Linked DNA regions of Homo sapiens: region 2 is linked to region 1. The links come from fine-mapping of genetic effects on plasma protein levels. A gene starts in region 1. The other region holds a variant in brackets. All regions are shown on one strand. Distances are between the middles of the regions. Region 1 holds the start of NT5E (5'-nucleotidase ecto). Region 2 overlaps NT5E (5'-nucleotidase ecto).

The links. PIP is the posterior inclusion probability: the model's chance that the variant is causal. The UK Biobank Pharma Proteomics Project read protein levels with antibody pairs (Olink). The fine-mapping took linkage between variants from a reference panel, not from the people measured, so its PIPs are less certain.
Region 2: its variant is fine-mapped to the plasma level of the NT5E protein (UK Biobank, PIP above 0.99). The variant lies in the coding sequence of NT5E. If it changes the protein, the assay may bind it differently, which can mimic a change of level.

The regions. Positions count from the first base shown.
Region 1 is chr6:85,445,950-85,454,477 of GRCh38, reverse strand. NT5E (5'-nucleotidase ecto) reads right to left here and starts at 4,395. Exons shown (of 9, transcript NM_002526.4): 1 at 4,000-4,395. The coding sequence starts at 4,338. RefSeq lists a silencer at 4,333-4,602.
Region 2 is chr6:85,488,502-85,491,499 of GRCh38, reverse strand. NT5E (5'-nucleotidase ecto) reads right to left here. Exons shown (of 9, transcript NM_002526.4): 6 at 1,901-2,006; 7 at 843-992. Among named protein-coding and RNA genes, the nearest start is that of NT5E, 40 kb to the right of the region's middle. The variant T/C (reference allele first, on the strand shown) is at 1,985.

The sequences.
Region 1 (8,528 bases):
AGAAGAGGAAGCTTAAAAAGTTAACAAACATATCAAAAAATGTCCAAACTCACTAGTTATTAGAAAAGTACATGATAAAGCAGCAATGTGTATTTTACACCTACAATAAAGCTGGATACTGCCATGATATATAGGTAAAATATAGAAATTTACATGTCCTGTTTGGGGATGGGAGTAGGTGGAAGAGAATGGAGGATGTCAGTCATTGAGGAAACCAGTCTTGTAGTACTCAAAGTATGCCCTGTGGCCAGCAATTCTGCTCCTGGGTAGAAATCATCTGGTGAGACCATCCAGGAAGATATCTGGAGCAGCATTATTTGTGGAGGCAGGGTGTTAGACGCCATCTCCAAACCCATCAGCCAGGGAGCAGATGGGTAAAATACGTGGAGATGGGTAAAATACACAGAGCACAATTCACAGTGATGTATAGGTATAAGGGCATCTAGGGCAACATGGACAAATCATAAAAACAATAAGTTCAGGACAAAAGTAAGAAACAGAAAGGGCTAAATAACAGGACTGGGTATGCCATTATAAAATATAAGCACACAAAGGTTTTGAAAGTGCATGTAGAAACAAAACTATATGCAGTCCATCAAACACATTAGAATGTTGTCTATGTGGGAGGTGGAGGGTGGCGAACAAAGGACCATCTATCTGACTAACCTGTCCCCTGGGTGAGTTAAAGGCGGGGGCCATGGTTCCCACCCTGGCTGCTGCCTCCCCCATTTAGGAGCAATTGGCTAGGGCTAAGGCTGCAGCCTTATGGGCAGGAAGTGGGCTCAGCAGCCAGGGCCTCAGAAGCAGCAGCCAAGCAGAGAAAAGGCACCTTTCTAGGGGACCCTAGAGACCTGCTCAAAGCTACCTTCCCCACAGCCTGTCTTGGTGAGAATCTCACCTCTGGAGGTGGATACCTTCAGTTTTGTGCTGTGGGGAGATTTCATAAGTCTGCTCAATGAGTAACTATAGCAAAAATAGTTTAGGCAATGGTACTTAGGTAAGATGGTAGAGGGCAGGCAGGTGGTAGACTGTGCCAGGCTGTGAGAATCAGATAATCTGATGCACAACCCAAACCTTCCCTTCCTCACAATTCCCCTCCTCCCCACCCAGGGCACATGAAACTCACTTTCAGTGAGCACCAGCAGGGATTATCTCATGTATTCCTCACAAAACCTCTGCAAGATGGGGGTTATCACTCCTGTTTTACAGCTAAGGAACATGAAGCTCAGAGAAAGTAACCAGGCCAAGCGCATACTGTCAGTGCTTCCATGCTGTCTTCCTCGTGCCTCAGGGGACAACAGTCCTTCCACTGAGACAGCTACACTAACTGGAGAGTTTTGCCATCCTCTTCCCAGTTTTCTGCCTAGTAGTGGTTCCAGGGGGTCTCCAGGATTGCCCTGGGTCCTCTACAGCAATCAGGATTACTCCAGTAGGTCTAGAAAGTGTACACCTCCTTGGAAGTTCCTGCTCGAGGGGACTCCTGTGTTTTAGCTGGATTCTAGGAAATTCCTCTTTGTCCTCCATATGCTTCAGTCCTTTTATGTGGCTCCTTTGAACTAGGTCCAGTCTCCAGGAAACTGGAGATGCCCCTCCACAACTGTTTTCCACCCTGATTTGAATCCCCAGTGTCCTAGGAATCAATATGCGGTGAGTGGTTACAGTGGAGGAACGTTTATACCACAACAGCAATAAATTCTCTGAGGGTTAGTATAATATAAACAATTGACAGTGAAACATCTGTGCAATACTGGAGTACAGCAGAGCTTTAGCACATGCTTTAGCACTACAGAACTGGGATTTTATGCACGTCAAATCATGTTTGACACACCCCCAAACTGCACAGAGTAAGTCCTGAGGACACAGCCATCTAACCTTGCCATGTGATCCGCTCCCAATCTTTACCCCCTGCCAACATTACGTAAGTAGCCTATTTTTCCTCAGAACCCAATTCAATTTTCTTGAGCAAAATTTGAAAGAAAGTAATTTCATCCAACAAAAAGGATTCTGAACAAACACAGAAGAGATAGGCTGTAACTTACAGCAGTTTACTCAGGCCTCACCTAGATGTCCTGTCATAAACATTTGATACCATGATTAACACCAGGAGCTCAACTAGACTTACAAGAGGGAAATATTATTAGGGAAAACTAGGAATTCTTCATTCTTATTTTTCCACTAAAAAGGGTTCACACAATTGTGGAGAAAAGAGTGTCACAAAAAGTAAAGTTTACAAAGTCGTGGTTTATATGCAAAATAAAACAAACACATGTAAGTTTATTCTACCCTTCTGGGAGGAAGTGGAGACACAGGGTAGCAACAACTCAATTCTACAAATATTTATTTTGTCATTACTGAGTGCAAAGTATCAGGGAAGTGTAGCTGTGGAATACCAATGCTTAAGAGACCACAGAGTTCTTGAAACCCACGATTCTTCTTCAAATCCAGATGTGTGTGAGCCCCACCTCATCAACTCTGAAGGCTGAAGGATCAGCTGGAATTTCTGCTGCAGGGTGTCCCTGATAAGCTCAAAAGCATCAGAACGGAGGGAGCTTTCTCCCCTTCTCTCATCTCATTAAAATGAGCTTTCTTGTTGTGGGGGGTTGGGGAGGGACCTTTAAAACCAAACAATGGTGCCCTCTTATCATCTTTTCCTGTCCTCCTTTCTCCAAGTTTCCAGAGGGGAAAATAAAACCAAACAAACCCCTCAGCATTGTGCTCTCCTGACCTCTAAGCTCTTCTCATATAAAGTGTACTGTTAGCCTTCTGTATCCCAGCCTAATCACACTTCCCTTTCCCTTCCACACTTGTGGACTTCACAGATTTCTCTGGACGTTTCTCTGGAGATTTCTCAGTTCTTCCTCTTCCAAAGCTCTTTTTTCTTCTCCCAAGTTTCTCCACAGTCTTGCTGAATCCCTTTACTCAAGGCTTTTACACAGGGTTAAATTTGGGTGGTGGTTTTATTTTTTTTTTAACCACCATATATACATCTTGGTTGTACTTATTTATTACTGTGCAACCACCTCTGCTCCCTTTCTAGAATTTAGTGCAATAGAAAAGGCATTACCTTTAACCTAACATTTGGGACTTTGAACTAAACTTTTGCACATGTTTTAAGAGCCCATTATCTCTTAAGTTGGACTCTTCCTAAATCTCTGCCGCCAAACCTACTTTATTGAAATCCTTTGAAACCCAAGTCTTTCCACATTTTGGCTCTCTCTGAAGTTTCTTTCTTTCTTTCTCTTTCTTTCTTTCTTTCCTTTTCTTAACCCTATATTATAGTGTCTGGTAATAACAACATATATAGACACCACACTATGTGTCTGGTAATAATATAGAGACCACACTATGTGCACTATGTACAATTATAATCCTTATTTTTATACAGGATAGAACTGAGGCAAGAAAGAGTAAATAACTTGCTCAAGGTCACATAGAAGGTAATTGAACAGAGAATCTACCCCAAAGCTGTGAGCTTAATTACTCTCAAGCTCCGGGGTCAAAGAGATCTGGTGTCCATTCTTATCACGTCTCCCTTTTTGCGGGGATGGTGCCTGTTAATTTATTCAGCTTCTTCGACGCGGTTTCCCTTTCAATAAGATTGAGATAAAGCATTTTTCGAAAGATCTAGATTGAGATAAAGCATTCTTTGAAAGATCTAGCAGTAAATGAGAGCTGCGTGAGGGATCCGATTCAGTCCCTAGCTCTGGATAACTGTCAGTGCTTCTACGCACCCCACCTTAAGCCCCTCGCAGGCAGGACTGGGTCCTGCTCCTCTAAATACTCCCATCTCATAGTGGGGGCGCAATAACGTCCGTTTAAGACGAATCGTCCAAGGGACTTCTATGCATCCAGCTGGCACACTGGCCGGAGTCTCACTTTATCCCCACATCTCTCCGCGCCCTGGACCTAGGCTTGCCACACTCTGCCATCCGCTGCTTTTCCAGCCCGGCTCCTCTCTCAGTCCGGGACTACTATCCCGGGCGCGGGCTCGGGTCTTACCATGGCATCGTAGCGCAGGGCGTTCATGAAGTGCGCCACCTCGGCGCCCTTGTACACGGTGAACCAGATAGTGCCCTGGTACTGGTCGCCGGCGTCCAGCAGCAGCACGTTGGGTTCGGCGCGGCGGATCTGCTGAACCTTGGTGAAGAGCCGAGCCACGCCACCCATGCAGCGGCTGGCGTTGACGCACTTGCTGGAGTCCTCGCTGGTCTGCTCCAGCCGGCTGTGCACGTCGTTGGTGTGCAAAATCGTAAGCTCCCAGGCGCCAGCCGCAGGCCACAGCACCGCGCCCAGGGCGAGGAGTAGCGTCGCGGGCGCCCGCGCGGCTCGGGGACACATAGCTGTGGCGCGTGAACTGGGTGCGAAAGCGGGCGAGCCGGGCGAGTGCCGGCGAGTAGGGGCGAGCAGCTAGGGCCGGGGCTCGGTGCCCCGGCTGGAGGGGCGGGGCCCGGGTCAAGGCCGGGGCGGGTCCTTCTTCAGCCTGGAGGCCGGCTTGGCGGCCAGGCGCAAGTTCGCGACGTCACCCGATCCGACCCTGGTACCCGGAGCGGCCCTGGCGCGGCTGTCGGCTGGCACCAGCTCCCTGCAGGAAGAGTGGAGAGGTTGTTCCCGGCGGGGAGCGGGTACCGGCCGCATCCCGGCCGGACCAGGGAGCCTGGGCGCCGGCAGTTCGGCTGCTGGTGCGCCGCTCTTTCGGGGGCGCGAGGAAGGAATTGGAGGGGTCCGCCCCGCGCCTGGGTCCTCTCTGAGTCTCGCCTCATTCGAGGCACGGGTTTTTCTACAAAAGGAATGTATGGTTTGTGGTTGCGCTAGCTCATCACTTCAAAGAACCAAAGAAGGAAAAGAGAGGGGGCGGGAAGAAAGATGAGCGAGCTGAGGGGCAGAGAGGAGGAGTAAAGAGAGGCCGGGCAGAGGAGCTCCTTGCAGTTTCGGGCTGTGAGAGCCGAAGCTCACTGAGATGTGACGCTTCCTGTTGGGTTGAGAACGCACGAAGTCTACGATGCTTAGACAAAAAAATCTCAGAAACTAAGAAATCATTCGAATCCAGTTCCTTGTTTATTCACAATTAAAACCTTAGTGATAAAACAGAGGCGACGCGCGGACAGCTCCTGGAAGCAGAAACACGATTGGGGTAAAATCCGGCAGCTATCAGGACGGGAAGGGATGCTGCCCTTCTTTGCTTTTCTGGTCTTATTTTATTTTATTTTATTTTTATTTTGTCGCGTGTGCTTTCGGTGTCGCAGTGAAGTCATAGCCAAATACAATGTTAGGAAGATTTTCCTCTATGTTTTCTCCTAAGAGTTTTATAATTTAAACTCTTAGACCTTTAATCCATTTTGAGTTAATTTTCATATGTGGTATGAGTCCACATTTACTCTTTTTCATGTGGATATCCAGTTTTCTTAGTACCATTTGTTGAAAAGACATTCTGTGCCCGTTTTTAAGACATTGACCTGAGGTTCGGAGATTGTAAATCATTTGCCAAGAAAGGCCATGCAGTTTGGGAGCAGCAGTGCCTGGGGCTACAGAAGACCCTTGCTTCTGGGACACCCTCTAATGTCATGCTTTGCAAGGTTTTGCTCTGTCCCTCTTTGAGCACCTGCTAGAAGCAGGTAAAAGAACTGGTAGTTTTGCTGTTTTAACTTAAAAAAAGAATGATTTTAGACTTACAGAAAAGTTGCAAAGGTAATAAAGGGAGTTCCCACATACCCATCACCCATATTGCCTTATGTTAACAGCTTATATAACCAATGAAACTAAAAACTTAACAGTGATACGAAACTATTAACTGTGTTACTGATTTTATTTTAATTTCACCAACTGTTCCACTAATGTCCGTTTTCTATTCCAGGACCCAATTCAGGATACCATATTGCAGTTAGTTTTCCTGTGTTCTTAGCCTCCTCTAATCTGTGACAGTTTCTCAGTCAGTTGTCTTCAAAAACCTTGACACTTTTGAACAGTACTGGTTTCTGTATACTATCCCTCAGTTTGGGTTTGTCTGATGTTTTCTCATGATTGGACTGAAGCTGTGGATGTTTAGGAAGAATGCTACAGAGATTATGTGCCTTTCTCATTGCCTGGTATCTGTGGGTACACGGTATCAACATGACCTATCACTGATCACTGGGGAACTGATCATTTGTTGTTTCTTGTCTTTTAAACCTAAGCCACTGCAATAGTTTCTGAAATTCCTGTTCTGGGGATGCTACCAGATTTCTGCTTCAATATCATTTCCATGCCATTTGTTTTCATATACATCTAAAATGGCCTTTGATTGTTTATTGCACCAAGTTCAAGCTTCGCAAACTGGCATTTTGAAGTCTCATTTTATCCAGCCAACTTTACCTTCCACTGTTCCTCACACATTCCCTTTGTCCTCATTTCTTCTCTCCAAACCACCATTTCCAGTCTGTCCTTAGGCCAAGGCCCGGGGTTCCTTTAATTTCTTGTTCAAGTCAACATGAAGTTCCTTTGACTTCTTCACACAGCAGTGAGTTTTTCTCTTTTCTAAATTTCTGGTCAGTTCCTACAATCTCACTTTAATGTGGTTTTACTTTTTTTCTCCAGGTGTTTAATGTGTGTTTTTGGTCTTCTCCCCAAGCAATGGAAACAGAGTTGCTGCTTCAGTGGTAGTAGTACTTGCAATTCAAGTAACACTAACTTAAAATCTACTTTAGACACAGTGGGCGATAGTATGAAAGAACCAAGAAGGATTTCGGCTGTCCTGGAGCTGATAATGCTGCAAACAAGGTGAGGGTGCATACAGTAAGTAGCTGCAAAGCCATGAGGATCATAGAAAATTTCCCAAGTCCATGAGGAAAGAAAAATATACAGGCAAAAATTTACATACAAATCAGGGCTTTATTTATTGTTTCATCAGTTGATTAGACTTAAGAAAGTAATGAAGAAAATGTCAAAATAATGCAGAATAAACTTAAAAGTGTGTGGTGCTAATATCCATTACATTGGGAATAGCCCCCCAAATTGAGAAAATATTATTTCAGTACATATTAGAAAACTATTTTCTGACTCAGGAAAAATCTCACTCACATCATTGATGAACAATATATCTAGTGCTAAAACTAGGTTTTAATTTAATGACTATAGCCTGTACTACACTCATTATATAATAGGGTGACAAATACTTTAATAATAGATTACATATTACATCCAATAACAATACGTTATTGATTTATTAGAAAATAAATGGGTATATAACTCCATTTGTCAAATCAGTTCAGCCGGAACCATAGGTTGGCTATGGATTGCAAAAGTTCTGCAAAAATCAATGAAAGCAGTCTGTAGGAACCAATAGTAAAATTTACAAATAGTAAATTGTGTGTAACAATCTTTTATATCAGAAAAATTTATAATAAATATGTATGTATATAAATGCATGCGTTTTTCTTTAAGAGTCAGTTGTTGAACATTTACCAGCACACCACTGGAGCTATCTAATGGATAATATATATTTAAGTTTCTTTTGTGATGAGAACCTATTTTATATCTTATCACAAAGTCTTTAATAAAATATCAATTTTTCTTTAAATTTGCTGAGATAGATTTATTTAGGTGGGCTGAATTAAAAATCTGAGACCTGCTTTTAGGTGAATGCGGGGTGAAAACAGGGACCGGCCAGGCGCGGTGGCTCACACCTGTAATCCCAGCACTTCGGGAGGCCGAGGCGGGTGGATGACCTGAAGTCAGGAGTTTGAAACCAGCCTGGCCAATATGGTGAAACCCCATGTCTACTAAAAATACACAAAATTAGCCAGGTGTGGTGGCGGGCGCCTGGAGTCCTAGCTACTTGGGAGGCTGAGGCAGGAGAATCTCTTGAACCCTTGGAGGCAGAGGTTGCAGTGAGCTGAGATCACGCCGTTGCACTCCAGCCTGGGCAACAAGAGCAAAACTCTGTCTCAAAAAAGAAAAAAAAGAAAGAAAACAGAGGGACCTTGTCATAGGCATCCTGGCACATTTGGATTATGCTGTTAAATGACTATTAATATTTCATCTTATTGGTAAGAAAACTTAATGTGATATTTAACCTGGCTGAATAATTTGCTTAAGATCATTCATGTCCAAGTAAGTGGCAGTCAGGTTTTGAGCACAATTGAATTCCAATACTCAGGTTACATTGTTAAGTCTTCACAAAAGCATGAAGGGTAAATATTATTATCTGCTCCCCACCCCCACTTTTTCTGTGGTGAGAACGCTTAAAATCTACTCACATAGTGATTTTCAAGTATGCAATACATTGTTATTAACTATAGTCACCAAATTATACAGTAGATCTCTTGAATCTATTCTTCCTATCTAGCTGAAATTTTATATTCTTTGATCAGCCTCTCCAGTAACCCTTCAGGCAGCCCCTGGTAACCACCATTCTACTCTCCACATTTTTGCTTTATCCATTCATCCATTGATGGACAGTTAGGTGGATTCCAAAGCTTGACTATTGTGATAATGCTGCAATATCATTCTCCTTTTATGGGTAATAAAATGGAGCTTCAACATGTTAAATTAAT
Region 2 (2,998 bases), 40 kb before region 1:
GGGAAAATGGAGGATGTTTGGGTTGCCCCATAGGCATTAGGACAGGGCCCCACTGCCTTCTGTAGCCCTTCAGTCTCAACAGCAATGTGTTCTGCAGAGGAAAACTCAGGAAAGCAATTCTATCTGTCAAGCGGGACCACAACCTAAGGTTAAAAAAATGAGGCCAGATTATGATTTCCAGGTAAAATAAGATTGCTTTTAAAGGATTAATTCACTGGACTGTGGAATTATTAACAAAAGTGTTTCAGAAGCCCTTGGCAATTTAGGAAGCATTTATTTCCATTCAACTTTCACTGCAGTCCATGAGATAAACAGGAAAGGTTTTCTCCCTGTGCCCAGAGGGGTTGAGAACTTGCCCCAGGTCACAGTGGGACTAGAACCAGGTGTTCAGGTATGTCTGTGCAGTAGGCTGCTCCTTCCAGGAATCATCCTGGTTAATACAGATTGGACAGCATTCCTTTAAATCTTGGCATGGTTCCAGGCAACGATGAGTAGAACAGAGGAGAGGATTTAAAAAAAAAATAATTGAATGCTTAAATAAGATTTTATTAGAAACTAGACCTCAAAGCAGGTGACCTGCTTAGAGGGCCCATCTGATGTCCAAATCAGACTTGGCAAATACTGCTTATTGCCAGGGCTTTGGGGCTTTGGGGCTTTGACCCCAACCTAATCTTAGTGGCTCTGAGAGTCCACAGCCATTAAAGGGTAAGGTATTGGTGTTGGGTCGGGAAAAATCCAAACCAGTTTGACCACAGGAATTTTGGTGAAGGGGAAGCTGAGCCAACCAGCAGGAAATGCCATGTCACTTTGGATGGGCCAGCCCTACAGGATGGGTGACTTACCGCCCACCTGCAGGAACTCTCCAGTGGACTGGCCGTAGCGGTGCACGCTATGCTCAAAGGCCTTCTTCAGGGTGGAACCTTTTAACTGGACTAGGTCAAATGTGCCTCCAAAGGGCAATACAGCAGCCAGGTTCTCCCAGGTAATTGTGCCTGAGGGTAGTCACAGATGAGGCAAGAAGGAAAATAGCTTGAGAAAATGCTTACACCATGACCAGTTTCCCTCAGCGCTGGGGGAAGAAATGAGGGGGACATGGGAAGCTTATAGAGCATCATTAGCTATGTCTAAGTGGTTCCTGACACTGAGGAAGGGAATGAGTTTAGGAGGCCTCTGGCCCTGCACTCCACCACTGGGCAAGATGGCGGGAGCTCACAAATGGCTGTGCCTCAGAAGTTCACCATGCTCAGTCTTAGATCTGCTAGCTTGGGGCTGGATCTCCAGTAGTTTGTTTTGCATTGTTCCGTTCCTCCAGACAAACAATGTGCCCCTGCAACCTGTCCCTGTTGTCTGACAATGGGATGCGTTTGGGGCCTTATACTGATACTGATTGGTTTTCACAGTAAATCAGGGAGGGCTACAAGAGTGTCTTGAGTATTTGTGTAGTTGATTTGTTTTGCCATATGATATAATCTTGGATATCTGTAAATATACTAAGGTAACATTTTAATCCAGTGGTATGTCTTTTTCAGGACAGAAGATTGGTGATTTTGTCTCTTTTCAGATGCCAAGGTGGTGACTGTTGTTATTTTGCATAAATCAGAAACAACTAGTATAGCTTTGTAAGTCAGAAATTCAGACCAAGTTTGAGTTCCACTAACCTTACCTGCAGCTTCTGTGTGTGAATACATATAAGAACACACAAGCTTGTGTGTGTCCTTCAGGCTAGGTTTTAGACTTTAATAATGGCTAACCCTAATTTAAAGGACTGACATTCTGGTACATGGCTGGCAGCAGAGATGAACTGAGGCTGCACATGGGTGTGTTCAGGGCAAGAACCATAACAGAAAAGGAGATCAGAGAGAGAACATGACACACTGAGGAGCTGGGCCTGGGAGCATACCATTGTTGCGTTCATCAATGGGCGACCGGATACCACCTCCATTTAAAATGCACATGGATACGTGGTTCCAGAACATTTCATCCG[T/C]GTGTCTCAGGTTGTTGTTAATCTGCAACAGTAGCACAGATTTACACTAGTTACTCTGGCTCTTCTTCCTTAGGATCAGCTCCAGGAATCTGGTTAGCTCTAGTGAGGAAATAAAGCTGCTTTTCACCTGCTGCTGTGTTCCCAGGGATCTCTCAACTATAATTAGAACTAATTTTATGCTCCCAGAAGTAAAAATATACTGTTACCAGTCCATGTCAAACTCTTATTTCCCCCTCCTAAAACTCCCATACTGTCAGGCCAGGTGGCCTTAGCAAAATGGTCTCTCGGTTGTAGCCCTGGTGTCGGGACTGGGCCTCCCATGCAAGGTGGCCTGCAGAGTCACTCCTGCACAGGCTTCTCCAGGGCAGGCCATGCCCTCTGCCTGATTCTGAGGGCTTGGCCCTAGAGCCTGCTCAACACCAGACCTCATGCCAAAGAGAACCTGGCCTCCACGTCTATGTCTGCAGCTGATTCCCAAGTTGGCAATTTTGGAAAGACAGAGACAGCCTTTTGAAGCTGGGGAGAATCACATCCATTCTTACTTTTATTTTACAAAATATATGTTTAGTTATAAGAAATAAAATGAATATATTCTCATTTAGGAGACAAAAAGCCGAAAAAAAAAAAAAAAAAAGGCCAGGCATAGTGGCTCACACCTGTAAATCCCAGCACTTTGGGAGGCTGTGGCAGGTGGATCACCTAAGGTCAGGAGTTCGAGACCAGTCTAGCCAACATGGTGAAACCCCGTCTCTACTAAAGATACAAAAATTAGCTGGGTGTGGTAGTGGACACCTCTAATCCCAGCTACTTGGGAGGCTGAAGCAGGAGAATCGCTTGAACCCAAGGGACGGAGGTTGCAGTGAGCTGAGATCATGCCACTGCACTCCAGCCTGGGCGACAGAGCAAGACTCAGTCTCAATAAATAAATAAATTAATTAATTAAATAAATAAATAAATAAAAAGCAAAAGCTCTCCTTTGTCCTAGCCTCTTTAACAGAGTGGATAAGCACTGCC